Homo sapiens: one gene and its partners. The protein of the gene in region 2 interacts with the protein of the main gene of each other region in a biochemical or structural test. Each region holds a gene or a part of one and is shown on either strand. Other genes may lie near its edges. The genes, in order: MAP1B, MARCHF5, FUNDC1 and MFN2.

Region 1 (5,023 bases), on a different chromosome or scaffold from region 2:
CTCATAGTAATAGCCACCCACATCTGAGGTCCGGGTGGTCTTCTCATAAGACTCATAGTCATAATCTTCTTCATCTGGGGACCTGGTTGTTTCCTCAGGCTTTTGATAGGCATAGCTAAAGTCACCAGGTGTCTTCCCTCCACTGTCCTTCTCCAGGCCAGGTGTGGACAAATCTCTATTCAAGGCTAGATGGTGTTGCATTGTATCGAATAACACTGAGGCACGGAAGCCATAGGGCTCTGCGGATGCTGCATCTATTGGTGGAGAAGAGGAACTGTGGCAAGTTGCTGTTTTCTCTTTGACTGCAGAGGTAGAATCTGAAAAAGTAGGTGAATATAAAGGAGAGGACTCTCGTGGGGTGAGTGGAGAGATATCAGATTTTGGAGAGAGCTTCTCTCCTTCCAGACTTTGCACTTTTTCAGAGGTGAGTGAGGCATATAAGGACATATCTCTGGGAGGAGCAACATCGGATAGAGTATCTTCTTGGAGAGGAGAAGCGATCTGAGAAGGGGTATGAGCAGAAGAGGTGGACGGGGAGGCCTCTACCTGAGATACTGAGATGAGCTCAGAAAGATCATTATCTTGGGTGTAGGACGGCTCCTCCATAGGTGGTATCTTATGTGATAAACTGGAGTCCTGCATGTCAGAAGGACTGTAGTCCACTTCAGTTGGCCCATTTTCAGTGATGTGAAGCACGCCTGCACCCACTGTAGGGTGATCTGGAGACTGTCGACTGAAGTCCATAGCAAGGGATTGCTCAGGAGATTCTTGGCCAAATTCAATAGACATTGAGGACTGTTCAGATCTGTGATCTTGAACGGGTGTCCTGGACTTTGCAGTTTTAGGGGAGAAATCTGGTGGAGAAATTGACATCGGTCTTGGGCATTCTTCTTTAGATGGAGACATTTCTGTTTCCTGGAATGTGGTAGGTGTTTGCACAACAGACACTGAAAGGGAGTCATCTACTTCTGTGGAATGTGGGGAGCCAACCTCAGCATGCAGAGATGGAGACACATCATCTGTTGTTGGCTCTGGAAATGAGCTCGTAGCCACTGAGGCTGTGGACACTGAGGCCACACCCTCCATATGAGAGTACGTGTCTTCTGCTACGCCCTCATCAACAGGAGTAGCTGACTTGTCTGAGACAGTACCTTCAGAAATGGACATCTTAGTGTCTTCTTTAAAAGATCCAAACTGACTGACATCTATTTGTGTGGGAGAAACATCTCCTAATTTCCTTTCATCCAGAGCCAGTGCTGGTTGAGAACTCATGGCTTCAACATCATCAGTTTTCTTTTCTTGGCCAAAGTCTTCTTTTATTGGTGCAAAGTCTGTGCTTTTCCCTTCCTGTTTGTCTTGGTAAAGACTAGTAGAAGTCATTTCAGAAACTGGACTTACTTGGTCTGGAGAGCCTTGTTTTCCACTCTTTTCTTCAAAAGGACTTTCGGCACCTCTGCCAGAAGCCTTGTCATCAGCACTTAGAAAACTTTCATAAGCAGACTCGGATCCAATGAGGGGCGGGCTGCGTAAAGGAGACAAAACTTTTTCAATAGGAGACTCTGAGTCAGGCACGGGCTCATCCATGGGGCTTACTGAAGCCCTTTCATTCTCATCTTTGGCATCACTGAATTCAAAACTCACTGGAACTGCTGGTGGTTTTTCAATGACTTCTGTAGGGAGATGACTGGATTTCTCGTCAGTAGGAGATTGATAGTAAGGTGTGTGACCAGCACTGCCAGTCACGGACTGAGATGGTGACACCACTTCCAGAGTCTTGTCCTCAGGACTAGCACAATGTTCTTCAACTACTTCTTGGGTCACCTCAGGAGACACCGGGGCTACTTCTGCCTCTGCAGAGACTTTAATCTCATTGGGCGTCAGAGAGAAGTTCACACTACGTTCACCCAGGGGGGTCTTTTCTAAGGGTGATGGTGGAGATGGACTCAGGGACGGGCTCTTCGATGGGCTGACCTTTTCACTTGAAACAGCTGAGATGCTATCTTTGATGTCCAAAGTGGTGCTGGCTTTCACTTCAGAGCAGTAAGCATCACGTAAAGCAGATCTGCTGAATTTGTCTTCCTCCATGGAAGAGGGTGGTGATATGGTAGAGGCTGAAGCATTGTAATCCTTGCCATCAGTGGCATCTGTTTTTGATCCTTCAGAAAATCCGTTGAGCGGTGTAACATCAGCAGGTTTAGAGTATTCCTGAGAATACAATGAAGATTCATATTTGGTGATATTTACGAATTCCTGAGAAGGGGACTCCGTCTCTTCATTGTTGGTCTCATCACTCATCACGTCTCGAGGGGTAGACATCTCATCCATGGGGGTGGGCTCACTGGATATCTCAATAGTAGACTGAGTGTAGCCAGAGGTGGCAGTGAATTCCTCAGGCTGGTCTTCTCGATTCTCCTCATCAGAAGCGGTGGCCTCGCTCTCTGAGCCTCCAGGTAAAGTCTCATCATGAATTGAAGATGCAGGTTCTCGGCCAGGAGACTGGGCTCCTAGTTGCTTGGTTGGTGTGGTGAGGAATCCATACTGCTCCTCGGCACCACCAGCCTCTGCAGCCTTGTCGACCACAGCCATCACATAGTCTTCAGCTTCCATTTTTTCCGGCTCATATTCCTCCTCTCTGGCATCTTCAGCTTTGTCCTCCTCATCAGCCTCCTCTTCAGATTGTTCAGCCTCTCCTTTCTCAATGGCCTCATCCATGTCTTCTTCGGCTCGGTCATCCCCACTGGCCACAGACTCCCTCTTCTCCCTGATGTATGCATCAGCCTCCGCCTTGGCACTTTCCTCATCCTCAGTGGGGCTGTGCTTGGAGGCGCTCACACATACGTGTTCCTCCCCATCCTCTTCTGGCTCCTCAGCCTCCTCAGTTTCTGCCTTCTCTTCATAGTCTCCAGTCTCTGAAGATTCTTCAAAACCGGCTCCTTCATCTTCAAATTTTTCAATGTCGTCTACTCCCTGCTTCTCGACGGGCTCCAGCTCCTCAGGTGTCTGTTCACATTCGCCCTCCCCTTCAGTGGTAGTGATTCCCTCATCAGGGGACTCGGCAGGACCTTTGGTGACTTCTCTCTCCTTCTGGATGACGTAGGCTTCGACTGGCTCAGTTTCCTTCAGTTTCTCTTCGTCTTCGATTAGCTCCAGCTGAGGCTTGATGTCCTTTGTTACATCGACCTCTTCAGCCTTTAACTCTTCAAAGTCCTTGGTTAGATCCTCAGGAGATGACATAAGGGACCTCTCAGCTTCGAGTTCTTTGGCAGGGCCAATGGCTGCTATTCCAGCTGCCGCCATGACAGCTGCTGTGGTGGCTCCAGTGCCGACAGCTGCAGCGACAGCCTCTGCGGCCTTGCCTTCCTTCTTAATGACTTTTATTTTCCCCTTCTCCTTTGGCTTTCCGGCAGCAACAGAATCTTTCTTGACAGACTCTTCCTTCTTGGGTACTTTTGGTTTTAAAGCAGCTGGTTTTTTTGCTTCAGACAGAGGAGTAGATGATTTCTTTGCGTCTTTAGGGAGCTTCTTAATTTCTTTTTTGGGTTCCTTTTCTTCCTTTTTCACTTCCTTCTTCTCTTCCTTCTTAACTTCCTTCTTGACTTCCTTTGGCGGTGTTTCTTTCTTAACCTCTTTCTTGGGTTCTTTTTTCTCTTCTTTCTTGATCTCTTTTTTGACTTCTTTTTTCACCTCTTCCTTTTTTGGTTTTTCCTCCTTCTTGATAGGTGTTTTGTCCTCCTTTTTAGCCACTTCTTTCTTTGGCTTTTCTTTCTCCTCTTTCTTGTCTTCAGGCTTTACCTTTGTTTCCTTTTTCACCGTCTTCTCCTTGGCAGCTTTGGGTTTGACATCTGTGGCTTGCTTCTCAGCCACCTCGGCTTTCACTGGAGATGGCTCTTCTTTGCTGGGAACCTCCTTTTCAGTCACTGAAGGTTTGGTCTCTGTTTTTATTGGCTTGTCTTTTTTCACCATTACCTTTTCTTTGCTTTCAACTTTGGGTGGCTTTTCCACGTGATTCACTTTTGTGACCTCAGGGGTTTCTTCTTTTGACTCCTTGCGCACGGATTTGCTAGGAAGTGGTTTTGCGGCTGGCTTCAGACTTTCTCGGCTATCAGCCCTCTGTTTCAGTTTTGTTTGTTTCACCACAGGAGTGGGCACCTGGCCAGTGAGATCCTTTTGGGTGGCCAGTGGCTGCTTCAGAAAGTCTAGATGTTTGAGCTTTTCCAACCCTTCCAGGATGTTGTACTGGGTGCTGTTCCCAGGAAACAGGACTCGGATGATTTTCTCCGCAGGGTTTGCTGGATGCCACACAATCAAAGATGAGACTGAAGTTAAGTAGGAAATCGGGAGATCTACTTCTTGACCATTAGGCAGAATGAATTCAGCCTTGTCTTTGTTGGTACCAGTCCACTGCTGCATAAAATACTGCATTTCCTTGCTGCTCTTGACTGGATTAAGCACATACATCTCAAGTTTACCTACTCCCATTTTTTGGAAAAGAATGACAGGATCAATAGTATTGCCTACACTTCTAAACAGAGGTTCTGGTTTCATGGACAATTTGTTTAGGTACTGGAGAGTGAAGCAGGCTTCTTCTATGCTTCTCTTCATCTTGATGTTTGGCTCTGGATTTTTGAGATTTTCAGGTACATTGAGAAATACAACTCCTAAGTCAGGGGAGATGAGGTTTTTCATCCAGTCACTATTTGTGGTGGAGCCCTGGGACTGTTCTTCCTCGAGCTCTGCAATTTTCCGCTGTAACATGCTGTTTATTCCAGGCAAATTGTCATCCCCAATGTGGGTGAGCAGGATGGAGTCCACTCGGTCTAAGTGTCGGATGAGCTTCCAGAAGCAGGATTTTCTCTCTGATCCGCCATTGATGAGCATATTGAAACCATTCACTGCAAACAAGGCAGAATCGCCCCTCCCTCCTGGAAAAATATAACAGCAGGGCTTGGAGAGCTTCAGAAATCCACCCGATGTGGGAGGTTCCAAGATGTCAAAGGGAGATGGGACTTCCACTGATTCTGAG
Region 2 (5,821 bases):
GGATAGGGTAAGGAAAAGATTGTATTAGCTTCATTACCCCCATAGATAGGGTACCCTAGAGTTCCTGAATTGGGAAAAATGCCTGGGATCTGTAACCAAAACTGGACCTCCTACTACAGTCCCTCAATTCTAGACCTTGGAAGTGCACTTAAGGAGGGTTAGGTCTGTAGGGTAGACACTTAGCCAGCCAGAGACATCACACCCTATCTTACACACCACTAAGTAAGGAGAAAGAGCCAAAGAGAAATGAGCTTTCAGGCCATCTCTTGAAGGCCGGTCCTACCTCTTGGCTGGCTATGCTTAATCTCCTAGAAGGAAGATCAGGAAAACAGTTGTTTTGCTGGAAGACAAATAGGACTTAGAATTATATCCCAGTTCCGTAGCCCAGTCTAACCAAATCAAATAAAGGAATAGAAGCAACAATCAGAGGTCCCCGCCCCTCTATTGTAATGTAATCAGTCTGGGTCAGCCATTTTAATTTTTATTCCTGTGTGGTATGAAATGGCTTGGGAACTTTGTTTTTCCCTTGAATGAGACATTTCTTATAAATAAATCAGGACTGATAGCTTTCCAGCTTATTTTTTAAACTTTTTATTTCTGTGTATTCTTTTGAAATTAAGCATTTTCTATTAAAAAAATAGAGCTTAACATGCAACACCTCATTTGAAAAAGAAGTAATTCTAATATATGCTATCTGTTTCACAGGTTGTAGGTCATAAAGAAGGTCTGGATGTTATGGAGAGAGCTGATCCTTTATTCCTTTTAATTGGACTTCCTACTATTCCTGTCATGCTGATATTAGGCAAGATGATTCGCTGGGAGGACTATGTGCTTAGACTGTGGCGCAAATACTCGAATAAACTACAAATTTTAAATAGTATATTTCCAGGTAAGGCACTGAACTGTGGTTGTAAAGTGCATACCAAATTGATCTTGAAGAACAATAACATGCTTTTTTAGCCATGTTTGAAGGTAGTCTAACTCTTCTGATTTATTAGCACTAACGCACTGCATTTTTTTCCTCTAGGGATAGGTTGTCCTGTTCCTCGAATTCCAGCTGAGGCCAATCCTTTAGCAGATCATGTCTCTGCTACTCGAATCTTGTGTGGAGCCCTTGTCTTTCCTACTATTGCTACAATAGTTGGTAAATTGATGTTCAGTAGTGTTAACTCTAATTTACAAAGGACAATCTTGGTAAGACGGCTTTAACATTACTTATATTACCTTGCAAAAGAGAATGAAGTGTATTTGTTTTTAAAAGGTGGGGAACTGTATAAATATTCGGTCTGTGGCTCCTATGCATTAAGCCTCTATTTGAGCCTCACTATCATTCAATAGCTTGAGTGGAAATAAAAAGAGGAGAAACCACTGCAGCAGTTCTGGCCTTTTGGAACTATGTTGTAGGTGCTTTCTCTCCTGGCATATGCATGAATCATCACACCTGTCCCTCTTGCCAGTGGGATTACAGTACTTTACGATCAGACCACCTGGTTCAAATCCCATCACAGAAATTGTCTTGCTGTGAAATCTAAATCAAATGTCTGGACTTTTTGTTCCTGTAGTATGGTGATGGTAATAATCAGGATTATTGTGAGGATTGTATAAGTACTAGCACATAGTAAGCACTCATGTTGTTTGCTATTATTGTTACTCCCACTTCTCCCCTCTGGTGGCATGTAACCTGCACGGACCTTGGAGGACTGAACAAAGGGGGCAAACGTGGGAATAAAAGACAAAGACAAGAGAGTATATTTGGAAGAAGGGGTCAGGGGGCACCTTGCCTCTAGTGGACAAGGGCCCTGAGCTTTACACAGCCCTCTGTATTTATTAGGCAAAAGAGATAGTGAGAAGCAGGGGTGATTGTCGGGTAATTGTCAGTCCATTTGGCAGTTTGGTTCACAGCAGGCTTGCGAGACTGCATCATTTGAACAGTAGGCGCTAGATTTCCCAGTAGATAAGTTCAAGGAGCCCTGCACCAGGGAGTGATGGCCCCCAGCAAACCCTTTGGTGGCAGGCTCAGTGTGAGTTTACTCACATCCTGCATTCATGATAAACAGTTTGCTGTTTGGTCATATAGCCTCCAGTGGAATGCTGAGTTGGTCACGATCCCTTTGGCCTTTCTTGCTCCCAACAGTGGCAGTCTGCACATAGTGCCCTAGCATTCTTCTTTGTATATCAGAGTATATGTAGAACTACATGGAAGAAAGACTAGTCAGAAAGGATAATGGAGAAGGCATCTGTGTCCCCTGTTACCTGTAGTAACAGCGTATAGTCTGTCTCTCTCCCTATCTCATCTCCTAGTAGAAAAAGAAAACTGTTTCATTTGCAGTCATCTGAATTAGTTTAGCATCAAAGCCTACGTCTTTTGTGATCTAAATAAAATTATTTTTATTACTCTGTTTCTCTAAATCTGCATTATAAAAAGCTAATTTTCCTTTTTATTTTAGGGTGGAATTGCGTTTGTTGCCATAAAAGGAGCATTTAAAGTTTACTTCAAACAGCAGCAATATTTACGACAGGCACACCGCAAAATTCTGAATTATCCAGAACAAGAAGAAGCATAAAACTGACTTCTGGTTGTTCTGCAGTTCTCTCATCCTTATGAATCTGTTGTGTTGTTTTGATTCCATCATTAATGCACTTGTGGAGACTTGTGATAAGCTGCTGCTCCTATATTTTTTAAGAAATATAATAAAGCACTTAGGGCAGGGGAAATCATCTCGGTAATCATGGAACCTAAGGATGTGATTTGTTTTCATTGTTTGTATGTACTACTTTTATGGCAGTCATATGAACCATTATCTTAGCATGGTAAACCTGGGTTTTGTTCATATTTTCTCCAGACAGAAATGCAAAGATCAAACTGTGCAAATATTAAAAAAATGCACATGCTGTTTTATTCAAATGCCTCTTTTGTACATGTTCATGTTTAGTGTTTTCTCAGAATCAGCAACTCAAGGTACTATGAGGATTTTTCTCACTGACATAATTTGATTACATACTAAATAAGAGGATATGTTAATATGAGGAAATGTAAATTAAATTAGTTATAAATAAATAACCAAAAATGTATGTAAACATTCAAATGATTATCTGAACAAATGAGATTTTGTGGTGTTTTCTTTAACCCATGTGATGTCCTCCAAAATGTGTAGGGTAAAAATTCACAGGGCTTCCAGATCACTTTTTCAATATTAAATTTTATTTACATAATGTTGACATCTCATACTTCATGAAGTAATTTTGACTCATGCAGTCGTGTGTGTGTGTGTGTGTGTGTGTGTGTGTGTGTGTGTATTTGTGTGTTTCAGTGTTTCATCAGGTCCTTCCATCTCTGGGAGTTTTTTCAACCCATATTTCTAGAAATTACAGCTGCCAGTTTATAGTAGTTTGAGCAGAGGATGATTTGCAAAAATAAAAATAAAGTTATTTTACTCTCCTCTTGCATTGATTCAGTTATTGAGATATTCGTTGATCACCTCCTATTTCCCAGGCACTGTGCAGAGTGCTGTAGGACATAGTGGTGAACAAGACAGACTTGGTCCAAGCTCTTACAGAGTTGACAGTCTAGTTTCAGCACATAGAAAACCAGCAGTGAATAAACCAAGGTGAGGCCTTGAGCTCTTTGTTTTTATATTAATGAGGAGAAAAGTATGAAAACAAGAAGTCTTAAGTAAATATTGAGGTCATTGTTTTTGGCTTAAGTTTATTATAGAAAATCAACACTAATGTTTTTAGATTTTAATTGTCCTATTGATGAGGCTAGCACCTTAATCACTGTTTAGTTTTGTATTCATTTTTAAAAGCAATTATTGAAGCCATTTTCAATAGATTGGCCATTTTAATGTTCAGCAACCTGAATGGTTATTTTTGTTAATTAAAATTAAATTTTTAAGAGATATTTTCAAAACCCTATTTATTTTCTTGTTCACAGTAATGCATGTCAATAATAAATGTTTCCCCTTACTGATAAGCGGCCACTTTAGGAGTGTAGCAAATATAGATTGAGCTATGTTAGTTTGCAATAATATATGTTAACTTTAGTAATTAAAGACTGGTTTCTATAGTATGAATGTCTTAATTTTGAGTTATATGATGTTTATTTGAATGACTGTTGAACATTCAAATTTGTATTATTTGGAGATGAAGATTTGACTAACAGTGAGCCTTATTAAGAACACTACTACAGTTCTGAAGGGGAAATATAACATCTATGGTTATATATTTTAAAAACTTAGATTATAGGCTGTAATTATAAAATATATTGGCTTTTGTTTTCAATGTGAAAGATACATTAAATGGACACATATCTTGCAAAATTTTGTTGTATAGAACAGTTTTTAGGCAGCCTTTACTAAAGTTATGCAAACACACAGTTCCCCATTTACTACATTAATGCCCTTGACAGGGAGTAGCTGCTTGGTTTTATAGGTATTAGGGCTCATGAAGGCCGGGGAACAACTCTAATCCTTTTGGGGCAGGAGGGAGGGTTTTTTTAGGGTTGCGGGGAGGGAACTGCAAGTGCCTGAGGACCAGAGTGGCCTCTAGCCCCGAATTGAACACTTTTAAACCTAAAGAGCCTTATTATTATTAGCTCGAGAAATACCACATGCCAGTCTTCCCAGGAAGGTGACCTGCCTGACCATGAAGCAACAAAAGAGCATAGGCAGACTTAAAGTTGGATAGACCTGGGTTCAAATCATAGTTCAGCTTTCAATAACTGTATGTATGATTTTGGCTAAAGGATTTGACTTTCTCTCAACTGCAGTTTTCTTAATCTTTGAAATGCAAATAATGTTTATCTCAGAAGACTATTTCTAGGATTAACTGAGAGATTAAAGGAACAGCAGCACTTAGGCTCAAAATCGCCCCTACAAAGCAGTAGTTGTTTCTTAATTGCTAAGTAATCTGTTTGCACTCTAGGAAAAGTAAATGGAGAGGTAAAAGAAAGGCATTGGGGACAAATGAAAGAGATGATGTAGATTTTTCGGATGGGTGGGTATATTTTATTTTCCAGTTTATTTTCATATTTCTTTACTGTGTTATTTCTGGAAACTTTAATGTTTTAAACCTCTTTTATAAAATTCAATGACGACTACTAGAATTCTTTTCAAAAGTTAACTTATCTCCAAAGTGGCTGAAAATATTGTTTACCATTACATGATTATGAAATGACTGTGAAGAATATAAAATTAAACTTAGTGACTTAATTAGTCACTGCCTTGCTAACTTTGCTGTAATTTTTTTAAACGTCTTGTTTTTAATATAGCAAACTATCTCAATACTGGCTGGATTAGGTTAAATAAAGAATTTTTATGTTCTCTAGGTGTACTTTGTTAAATCTCAAAACATTCTGTACATACATAATTTTTTTTAATCACAGTTATCGAGATACTAGTTTTTGTAAGTAAAAGTAATCTGAATTTAAAAAAAAAACTGTATGGAAGAATTTGTCCTAATTTTGTAAACAGGCTAGCCTATATTCTAAGTATGTTCTAATGACTAAACTACATCCCCACTCACCCACCCTCAAAGCCTCTTGCACTGAGTATAATTAAGCAACTAGACAAGATCTGTGGGTGGTCTCATGCCATGATGTCTTAAAGTGTATTCGAGTGAGTTGGGAACACAAACTGCTTCTGAGATATTAAGAACTTAAATTTCTGAAGTAGAAGATTAGAATCCTCTAGAATGAGTTAAAGGTCTTTTCCTTGCATCCATTTGGGGATTATATTGGTTTTAAGTCATTTCATTACCCCATCTGAGAGACAGATGCTAAGAGGAGAAAGGGCATAGAATTGAACAGTCCTGGATGCATATG
Region 3 (5,023 bases), on a different chromosome or scaffold from region 2:
GACTGTTTAAGACTAAATGAGACTTCATAGACATGATAACCGAAAACAATATATAATTTTTTTTGGGGGGGTGAGTGGGAACAGGGTCTCATTCTGTCAGCCAGGCTGGAGTGCAGTGGCACAATCACGTCTCACAGCCTCAAGCAATCCTCCCACCTCAGCCTCCCAAGTAGCTGAGACTATAGGTGCATGCCACCGTTCTAATTTTTGTATTTTCTGTAGAGACAAGGTCTCTCTCTCTTACCCAGGCTGATCTCAAACTCCTAGGCTCAAGAGATCCTCCTGCCTCAGCCTCCCAAAGTGCTGGGATTACAGGAGTGAACTACTGTACCTGGCATATAATTCTTAATTGGGAAAAAAAAAGCCACACAAGATATTTTGTAGAAAAATATTAATATGAACTGCATATTAGAAAATACTGGCTGGGTGTGGTGGCTCAAACCTGTAATGCCCAGCACATTGGGAGGCTGAGGCAGGCAGGCTGCTTGAGCCCAGGAGTTTGAGACCAGCCTGGCAACATGGCAAAACCTCATCTCTACAAAAATATAAAAATTAGCTGGGCATGCACCTGTAGTCCCAGCTACTTGAGAGGCTGAGGTGGGAGGATCACTTGAGCCCAGGTGCTCGAGGCTGCAGTGAGCTGTGATCACACCATTGCACTCCAGCCTGGGTGACAGAGCAAGACCCTGTCTAAAAAAAATTAACAAAGAAAGGAAATACTATTATCTCATGTTACATTTTTTTTTTATTAATAATGGCATTTGGCCAGGCATGGGGGCTCACGCCTGTGATCCTGGCACTTTGGGAGGCCGAGGCATCATGCACACCTGTAGTCCCAGCTACTTGGGAGGCTGAGGTGGGAGGACCATTTGAGCCAGGGGAGTCAAGGCTGTAGTGAGCCATGATGATGCCACTGCATTCCAGCCTAAGCAACACAGCGAGACAGAATGAGACCTGTCTCAAAAAAAACAAAAAAAAAAAACAAAAAAAAACAGTTGGCCGGGCCTGGTGGCTCACGCCCCTAATCCCAGCACTTCGGGAGACTGAGGCGGGTGGATCATGAGGTCAGGAGTTCGAGACCAGCCTGGCCAACATGGTGAAACCCTGTCTCTACTAAAGATACAAAAAATTAGCTGGGAGAGGTGGCGCGTGCCTGTAATTCCAGCTACTCAGGAGGCTGGGGCAGGAGAATCGCTTGAACCCGAGAGGCGAAGGTTGCAGTGAGCCAAGATTACGCCACTGCACTCCAGCCTGGGCTACAGGGCGAGAACCCGTCTCAAAAAAGAAAAAAAAAGTTTCTGAAGTGGCAGTTCCCACACAGTAAAAAAATAAAAAAGGGGGGGGGGCGTATTCATAGTTGTATAAGAGAATATCTGTACTCTTAGAAGATACATACTGAAGTATTTAGGGATGAAAAGTTATGACATCTTAAATACTTTGGAAAAAAAATTATCTGTGTGTGTCACCCACACACAGATAAAGTAAACACGGCAAATCATGAACAATTTGGTGAATAGATGAAGGGTATTGAGATATTCACTATATTTGTCTTTCAACTTTTTAACTGGTTTGAATTTTTTCAAACTAAAAAGTTGAGGGAGGTAAAAGGATAAAACAAAAACAAAGGCAAGGAAGTATTCAATTCCATTTTAAACAGTACAAAAGTAAAGGGTCAAATTACACCTGAAAACATTAATAAAATATATTAATCATATTAAAAAAACATATTTTCAAACTATCCTCAAGAAAAAAAATGTGTACTTTTAAGTTTTACTACACCTGTACATGTTCATTTATAAAGGCAGAGGAAATATGTTGAAAAGAATGTTCTTAGTTTTTACAACAAGATCAAAGTGAGCTAGAGATATGCAGGGGAATCTATGATAACCACCAAAAAAAAAAAAATAATGACTGATTTAAGTAGTGGTGTGATCTCAAATTTTACTTAACACTCTAGATATATAACCAAAAACACCATTTTTAAAAAAGACAGTAATCCCCCCCGGTCACATTTTCTGCTAAGGGATACCCATTAACCAAAAAAAGGAAAAAAAAAAAAAAAGTCAAAATTATATATCATCTTACTTCTTCAATTAAATTGTTGATTTCAGGTGCTGCTTTGTTCGCTCGTTTCTTAATCTGTCTTTTTGCTTTATTTACATCTTTTTCAACTCTCTTCCAGTCAATCTGCACATAGCCACTATGACTAGCAATCTGCAAAAAATATAATAAAAATTATCAATACTATACCAACTAGGTTGCTGACTATAATAGCCAAGAATATATAAACACTTAAGAGTTCTAGTAACCTATAAAACTTATAGCTAAGAAATTGCTTTTTCTCCACTAGTTTATTCATTTAACAGACACTAGTGCCTACCCTATGCTAAGTACTGAATAAGGGAGACATAAGCCCCTATCCTCAGAGAGCTTCAGGTCTGTTAGGGAAAACAGATATTAAGCATAAGTAAGTAACTAATTATTTAGATGTGATGAACAGTGTTTAGTACATGATGGGAAAATGATTCCAAAAACTGTCTTTTAACTATACTATCATTCTGTCACACCTTTTGGAATAGGGAATTAGTTAAAAAGATACAGAGATTATCTAGATTATATAGCTAATTTAAAAATACTTTTTAATTAAATAGATCTTTAATTATAAGGGATCATAAGCCAATCAGTTATTAGATCACTAAAGAAATTTAAGTAGCCTGGTAAGTATTTAAATAGCTCTCTTTACTTAAATTAAGAATACTTTCTGGTAATTGCTTTTGAAAGTAGAATATAAAACAAACTGCACTCTACACAAGTTTCATGCCATAAATCCTTTTAATAAAACTATAGCTAAATGCCTATCATAAGAAAAATTATCATATGGTACTACTGAGAGACTGCAATATCTGAACAGGAACAACAGTGTGTGTGCAAGCCAGTCCAGTAACTCAGTGCCTCCAAATAATAAAATAGCCATATATACCATTATAAATCACTTCTGTCAAGCTTATGCTTTCTTTGTAATTTTTTAGTGCATCACTTTTCTTTTGCCATTTGCACCCTGAATGAACACACTGACTTTTAGCCACACAGAAAATACTTTAAATAATAAAAATATCTGATTTTGCATAAACAGGCTGACTAGAAATCTTAGGTTCTATTTTGTCTGTGAATGACTCCATAGAAGAATTTGTTTATCTGCATTTCTTCTTGTATTTATTCATCTACTATCACTTCAAACTCCAGCCTCAGCAAAACAGTGGTGATCAAATCAAATGGCAAGTGAAGGCTTTTTCTGTTAGTACTTGATACAGCAATTTGAGTCACAGGCATGGAGGTGATGATGAACCTTAGGAAAATTCTACATATAAATTGAAAAGACTTCTTATTGGCTTGCACTAAGTAATCAAAATAGTTGATTACTTTGAAGCTTTTGCAGAATTTTACTTTTTGCTGAATCTTAACATTTCTTCTTAATCCAAAGCTTGTGAGAAGTACAAATATTTTATGTATGTATATGGCTTTATTTTTTGGTTAGAACAAAATTTTTTTTATTTTTGTTTTTTGAGACGGAGTCTCGCTCTGTCGCCCAGGCTGGAGTGCAGTGGCGTGATCTCTGCTCACCGCAAGCTCCGCCTCCCGGGTTTATGCCATTCTCCTGTCTCAGCCTCCCGAGTAGCTGGGACTACAGGCACTTGCCACCACGCCCGGCTGATTTTTTGTTTTTTAGTAGAGAAGGGGTTTCACCGTGTTAGCCAGGATAGTCTCGATCTCCTGACCTCGTGATCCACCCGCCTCGGCCTCCCAAAGTGCTGGGATTACAGGCATGAGCCACCGCGCCCGGCAGAACAAAAATATTATCTATACCACCACTCATCAGCAACTCCCAATTCAACTGTCATTTTCAAGACTTAACATTTTAAGTTACAAAGTTTTTTTTAAAAAGCTAATCTTCATGCCATGAGTTAAATTGGAAGTGAAATTAAAAAAACAAAAAACAAACCTTAACTATATTCCCTGGGTGAGACCCCTTATCCACCCCCCAATCCCCAGCAAATGAATAAAGGAAACCATTTTAATGAGACAGATTAAACAAATTCTCACAAACAGCATTCTATACACAAAATATTTTTACATAGCCATTTGTCACTGATAATTAGTAAACCCAGTGTTATCTGAGATAAAGATTTTGTATAATTTAAAGAATTCTCTACGTTTTGGGGGAAAATGTCAAACAGTTGCAAGGAAAATGAAAAACCTTGAGATGCTAAAGATACTAACGCCTCTTTGGAAGAAGACTTCCCTAACACCTCCAAGCAGACAGAGCGTCTTCCCTCTGCTCTCTCAGCACTAAACACACCCTTCTAGCTCAGCACTGACCATATGGGCTGTGAATCTCTATATCCCTAGAGTCCCAACTAATGCCAGATGAATGAGACATAGTAAATAAATGATAACAAAGACAATGAATAAAGACTAAATCTCAAAAGCTGTATTAACCAACCTGGCTCAAATAATGACTCTCAGCAACAAAATGGATGAGCTAGATTATCCCAAAGGACCCAACCTAGCATGTCTACTAACAAGAGAATGATCTTTGATGCTGGAGTGATCTACCATCACTGAACAAATTCCCTTGAGAATCTGTTCCCTTGCAGGAAAAATGAAAAACCTTGAGATGCTAAAGATATTAATGCCTTAAAAAAGAGAGAGAGAGATGAAGTCTCACTATGTTGCCCAGGCTGGTCTTGGACTCTTGGCCTCAAGCCATCCTCCTGCCTTGGTCTCCCAAAGTGCTGGGATTACAGTGAGCCACGGCACCCAGCTGAGAAGTACACTTCTGATCAAACCGAAGAATACCAGTCTAAATTGAGCACCCTGCTCCAGTACAGAGATGACCAAGGACAAGCAATCTGCCCCAAGTGGGGTTCAGGTACAACCAACTTAACCAACCAATACATACAGGACCCAATTCAGTCTTGTCCACACAAAATTCATCTGCAACTACAAGGAAATGCAAGCCAAC
Region 4 (5,023 bases), on a different chromosome or scaffold from region 2:
AGAGAGTGAGCTTACTGCTGGGTGGAGAACTGAGCAGTAAGATTAGGGTGGCTGGGGAGGCAGTGACAGACCCAGGCACAGTCAGCTGTGCACACACCCCCTCATCCAGGAGGGCCTTTGCCCTTTGACTTCCTGGGATTGGTGGGCTCTGCTCAAGAAGTAGCTTTCGCCGTGGTGGGAACTCTGAGGGACCTGGCAGGGGTCCACTTTTGGGGTCGGAATTCCCAGTCTTACCCTGGGCACTCCTTCTGGTGTGTACGCCTCTTTTTGATCTTTTTTTTTTTTTTTTTGAGATGGAGTCTTGCTCTATTGCTCAGGCTGGAGTGCAATGGCGCGATCTTAGCTCACTGCAACTTCCAGCTCCCAGGTTCAAGCAATTCTCGTGCCTCAGCCTCCCGAGTAGCTGGGATTACAGGTGCCTGCCACCATGCCTGGCTAATTTTTGTATTTTTAGCAGAGAAGGGGTTTCACCATGTTGGCCAGGCTGGTCTCAAGTGATCCACCCGCCTGGGCCTCCCAAAGTGCAGGGATTATAGGTGTGAGCCACCATGCCCAGCCTCTTTTGACCTTTGACCAAAGACCTCTAGGACTTTGGAGTCAAGTCTCATGACCTCTAAAATGTTGTTATATGAAAAGATAAGCTACAAAGATATGTAGGATTGAGTGAGAGCAAGAGAGACAGTCACACAAAAATAGACTGTGATAATATGGCTGGGTACGGTGGCTCACGCCTGTATTCCCAGCACTTCGGGAGGCCGAAGCAGATGGATCACTTGAGGTCAGGAGTTTGAGACCAGCCTGGCCAACATGGTGAAGCCCTGTCTACGAAAAATAAAAAAATTAGCTGGGTGTGGTGGTACATGCCCGTACTCCAAGCTACTCAGGAGGCTGAGTGAGGCAGGAGGATCGCTTGAACCTGGGAGGTGGAGGTTGTAGTGAGCTGAGATTGCACCACTGCACCCAGCCTGGGTGACAAAAGTGAGACTCTGTCTCAAAAAAAAAAAAAAAATTATAATAAACAAAATGTTGGGCCGGGCGTGGTGGCTCATGCCTGTAATCCCAGCACTTTCGGAGGACAAGGTGGGTGGATCATTTGAGGTCAGGAGTTCAAGACCTACCTGGCCAACATGGTGAAACCCCACCTCTACTGAAAATACAAAAATTAGCCGGGCATGGTGGCGAGTGCCTGTAGTCCCAGTTGCTTGGGAGGCTGAGGCAGGAGAATAGCTTGAACTCGGGAGGTGGTGGTTGCAGTGAGCCGAGATCATGCCACAGCACTCCAGCCTGAGCGATAGAGCAAGACTCTGTCTCAGAAAAAAAAAAAAAAAATGTTGGCTGGGCATGGTGGCTCACGCCTTTAATCCCAGCACTTTAATCCCAACACTTTGGGAATCCAAAGTGAGAGGATCATTGGAGCCCAAGAGTTTGGGAGCAGCCTGGGCAACATAAGAAGACCCTGTCTCTACAAAAAATTTTAAAAAAATTAGTGGGGCGTGGTGGTGCATGCCTGTGGTCTCATGTACTCAGGAGGCTGAGGTGGGAGGATTGCTTGGACCCAAGAGGTTGAGGCTGCAGTGAGCTGTGATTGCGCCACTGCACTCCAGCCCAGGTAACAGCGAGATCTTGTCTCAAAATAAAAAATAAATAAGTAAATAAAATGTTAACATTGCTTATCACAAAATGATGGGGTTATGGGTTTTTTTCCCCTTCAGTTTCCAAATTTTCTGTAGCACACCTGTGCTATACTAAAATAGACCAATAGTTTTTGTGTGTGTGTGTGTGTGTGTGTGTTTTTCTTTGTTGAGACTTGGTCTGGCTCTGTCACCCAGGCTGGAGTACAGTGGTGCGATCTCGGCTCACTGCAACCTCCGCCTCCCAGGTTCAAGCAATTCTCTGCCTCAGCCTCCCAAGTAGCTGGGATTATAGGCGGCCACCACCACACCCGGCTATATTTTTTTGTATTTTTAGTAGAGACGGGGTTTCATCATGTTGGCCAGGCTGGTCTTGAACTCCTGACCTTGTGATCCACTTGCCTCAGCCTCCCAGAGTGCTGGGATTACAGGCATAACCCACCATGCCTGGCTGTTTTTTTTTTTTTTTTTAAATAGAGACGGGGTCCTACATTGCCTAGGCTTGTCTCGAACTCCAAAGTTCAAGTGATCTGCCTGCCTTGGCCTCTCAAAGTGCTGGGATTATAGGTATGAGCCACTGAACCTGGCCCCTAACCAATAGTGTTTTTATGTGGTCTTGCTCTGTCTCCCAGGCTAGAGTGCAGTGGACTGATCATAGGTCACTGCAGCCGAAACTCCTGGGCTCAAGTGACCCTCCCACCTCAGACTCCCAAGTAGCTAGGACTGCAGATGCATGCCACTGTGTCATGCTAATTTTGTTTTATTTTTTGAGACAAAATCTCGCCCTGTCACCCAGGCTGGAGTACAATGGCATGATCTTGGTTCATTGCAGCCTCCATCTCCCAGGTTCAAGTGATTCTCCTGTCTCAGCCTCCCAAGTAGCTGGGATTACAGGTGTGTGCCATTGGGTCTGGCTAATTACTGTATTTTTAGTAGAGACGGGGGTTTCACCATGTTGGCCAGGCTGGTCTTGAACTCCTGACCTCAGGTGATCCACCTGCCTCAACCTCCCAAAGTTCTGAGATTACAGGGGTGAGCCACCGCGCCCAGCCTGAGACACTGTTCTTATCTCACCGTCCTTTGTTCTAGTCCTGGAGGTTGCAGTGACCTGAGATCCCCATATTCTTGATTCTCCCCAAAGCATTCCGCCATCTCCCTAGCAGGATGTCCCGAGGTAGGTGTTGCTGGGTTCGCTCACGTTAGCTTCTCTTGCAGCGCAATGTCCCTGCTCTTCTCTCGATGCAACTCTATCGTCACAGTCAAGAAAAATAAGAGACACATGGCTGAGGTGAATGCATCCCCACTTAAGCACTTTGTCACTGCCAAGAAGAAGATCAATGGCATTTTTGAGCAGCTGGGGGCCTACATCCAGGAGAGCGCCACCTTCCTTGAAGGTAAGGGGGCACCGGCTCAGCCAGGCCCGCTCTTACCTGTTTAGATATTTAGCTAGTGGGATTTGCGGGTGGGGAGGTATATCTCTGCTCCCAGGGAAGTCATAACCAGATAGCCTTAGAAATGCTCTGCTCTTGAAATCATGTGGAATTGGAGTCTGGGGAGATGAGGCCAGGAAGACAAGGGAACTGCCATTTAGTAATTACTTTAAGAAGTCCACATGTTTTGTTTCATTTAATCATGAAAGATAGGTGAATCTTATCCCCATCTACAAGGCAAGCAAATTGAGGTTTGAGAGTTGTCCGATACCTTGTAAGTAATAGATCAGGGTTTTACCCAGGTGTCTCCAACTCCGGAGCCCACGTGTTTTCCTTTGCCTAGTTCTGGCTGCCATTAATACCAGGCACTGTTTGGGTGTCAGTGATCCCTGACCAGGGCGCCCTTTCTTTGATATTTTTAGATTGGTGACAGAACTATAGGAAACTCACGTCACCTATGCCTTTTCTACTAGTTACTAATTTGAGCCCAACCTCTAGTTCCTTGTCTATCAGCAGAGAAGGACTGGTTCCCAGGGCCCCGCTCGTCTGAGTGTCAACTCCAGCACTGGCTTCCTCAGGCTCCCTCTTTAGAAGGACACTTTGGCGCCAGGTCCTGAGATTGTCTGTGGAGACCCAGTAACTGAGTCTTATCTGCCCTTGGTTTCCTCACTTGTGAAAGTGGGGCTCAGGTGTGAACAGTGGTTTCAGATTCTAGTCTGCAGAACCCTAGAAGTTCAGTGGTGGTGCTTCGGGGGTTGGCCCCTGGCTCAGGGGGGCCACCTTCTTTCCATTCTGCTTTCAAATAGAGCAGCTTGGCTTCTCGTTGTTTTACATGCCAGGCTGCTACACGAGGCTCCCTTTGAAGAAAGAGACTGTCCAACTTCATGCCCTCATCTGTGCCCTGCCCTTTGCGTGGCGCTTGATGCCACAGAAGGTGTTTCCTAAATACTTGTTGAACTAAAACAAATCTGAATTTTAAAGTAGTATGATTGGTAGTTGAAATAATCCCAACTCATTGCCTGTTTATCAGTGGCTATGGTGTGCCAGCCGTGTGCCAGGTGCTGGGCATGCAGAGATGGGGTAGATCAGGCCGCTCCCCTCTGGGAGCCCAGACTAACCCTCTTGGAAGCTCTGAGTCACCTACTCAGATGATGTGGTGGACAAACACATGCGTAATGCAGGTGTTTATGTGATGCATGCTTTGATTTCTCTGTGTGTGAAAATATGAGGCCTCCCCTGTTGTTTAAATGGAAGGGAAAGAGCTGGAGTGATCCTGAGCTGTGCTGGGTCAGGGAAAGAATGGTTCCTGCCTGGGCACTGTTTCTAACGGGCAGGTAACAAGAGCTTGTTGGCCTGCTGGCTCTCGCTTTTAAGTGTAGTCACATGCTTGAGAGCCAGCTTCCTCCGAGGGACATTCCAAAGGCCATGCCCAGGTGCCCATATAAGGGAGGAATATTGATGCATCTGGGGCAGAGGTGACCGGTGGACATAGCGGGAGGGGAGATGGGGGTGTTGTTGACTTGGTCATTTCCTTTCATGGCGCTGGCTGTGGGGGAAATTCACTGGGCAGGCCCTTGTCATGCTTCAGATGCTTTCGGAGTGTTCTCAGGGCTGGGGCCTGTCAGCCTCATAGTTCCCAGGAGTGTGCAGAGGGGCTAAACACCCGTCTGTGTTCCAGCCAGCTGAAGCACCTGTCTGGTGCGAGTTCTAGACAGGACAGTGGTGGGATCTCACTCAGTTGCTCCTGTATGGAGTAATTTGTTGGCCATCTGCCTGTTAAGGGCACTGGGAAAAAGCAGTGCAGTGATCCAAAGGTCTGCTCACGTAGCAAACATTTGTGCACCTGCTGGGTGCTGGGGTCAGATAGTGTGGCCCTCATGAGGCAGATGACACAGACAGGTGAGCTGTACAGTTACCTTATGGTGAGGTGAGAGCTGAGATGGGAGAAGTGCAGGGTGCTGG

Evidence for each region.
Region 1: of the proteins of MARCHF5 (region 2) and MAP1B, one has a biochemical effect on the other in vitro, tested with the Homo sapiens proteins (one study listed by BioGRID).
Region 3: the proteins of MARCHF5 (region 2) and FUNDC1 form a complex in vitro, tested with the Homo sapiens proteins (one study listed by BioGRID).
Region 4: of the proteins of MARCHF5 (region 2) and MFN2, one has a biochemical effect on the other in vitro, tested with the Homo sapiens proteins (one study listed by BioGRID).

Annotation. Positions count from the first base shown.
Region 1 is NC_000005.10:72,194,054-72,199,076, reverse strand, and holds part of MAP1B (microtubule-associated protein 1B), read right to left. Parts: coding exon 1-5,023. UniProt on the Homo sapiens protein: Facilitates tyrosination of alpha-tubulin in neuronal microtubules. Phosphorylated MAP1B is required for proper microtubule dynamics and plays a role in the cytoskeletal changes that accompany neuronal differentiation and neurite extension.
Region 2 is NC_000010.11:92,348,644-92,354,464, forward strand, and holds the end of MARCHF5 (E3 ubiquitin-protein ligase MARCHF5), read left to right. Parts: intron 1-705; coding exon 706-889; intron 890-1,027; coding exon 1,028-1,194; intron 1,195-2,447; coding exon 2,448-2,564; 3' UTR 2,565-5,321; downstream 5,322-5,821. UniProt on the Homo sapiens protein: Mitochondrial E3 ubiquitin-protein ligase that plays a crucial role in the control of mitochondrial morphology by acting as a positive regulator of mitochondrial fission and as an important regulator of immune response.
Region 3 is NC_000023.11:44,525,152-44,530,174, forward strand, and holds part of FUNDC1 (FUN14 domain-containing protein 1), read right to left. Parts: intron 2,215-5,023; coding exon 2,086-2,214; intron 1-2,085. UniProt on the Homo sapiens protein: Integral mitochondrial outer-membrane protein that mediates the formation of mitochondria-associated endoplasmic reticulum membranes (MAMs).
Region 4 is NC_000001.11:11,986,319-11,991,341, forward strand, and holds part of MFN2 (mitofusin-2), read left to right. Parts: intron 1-2,846; 5' UTR 2,847-2,850; coding exon 2,851-3,025; intron 3,026-5,023. UniProt on the Homo sapiens protein: Mitochondrial outer membrane GTPase that mediates mitochondrial clustering and fusion. Mitochondria are highly dynamic organelles, and their morphology is determined by the equilibrium between mitochondrial fusion and fission events.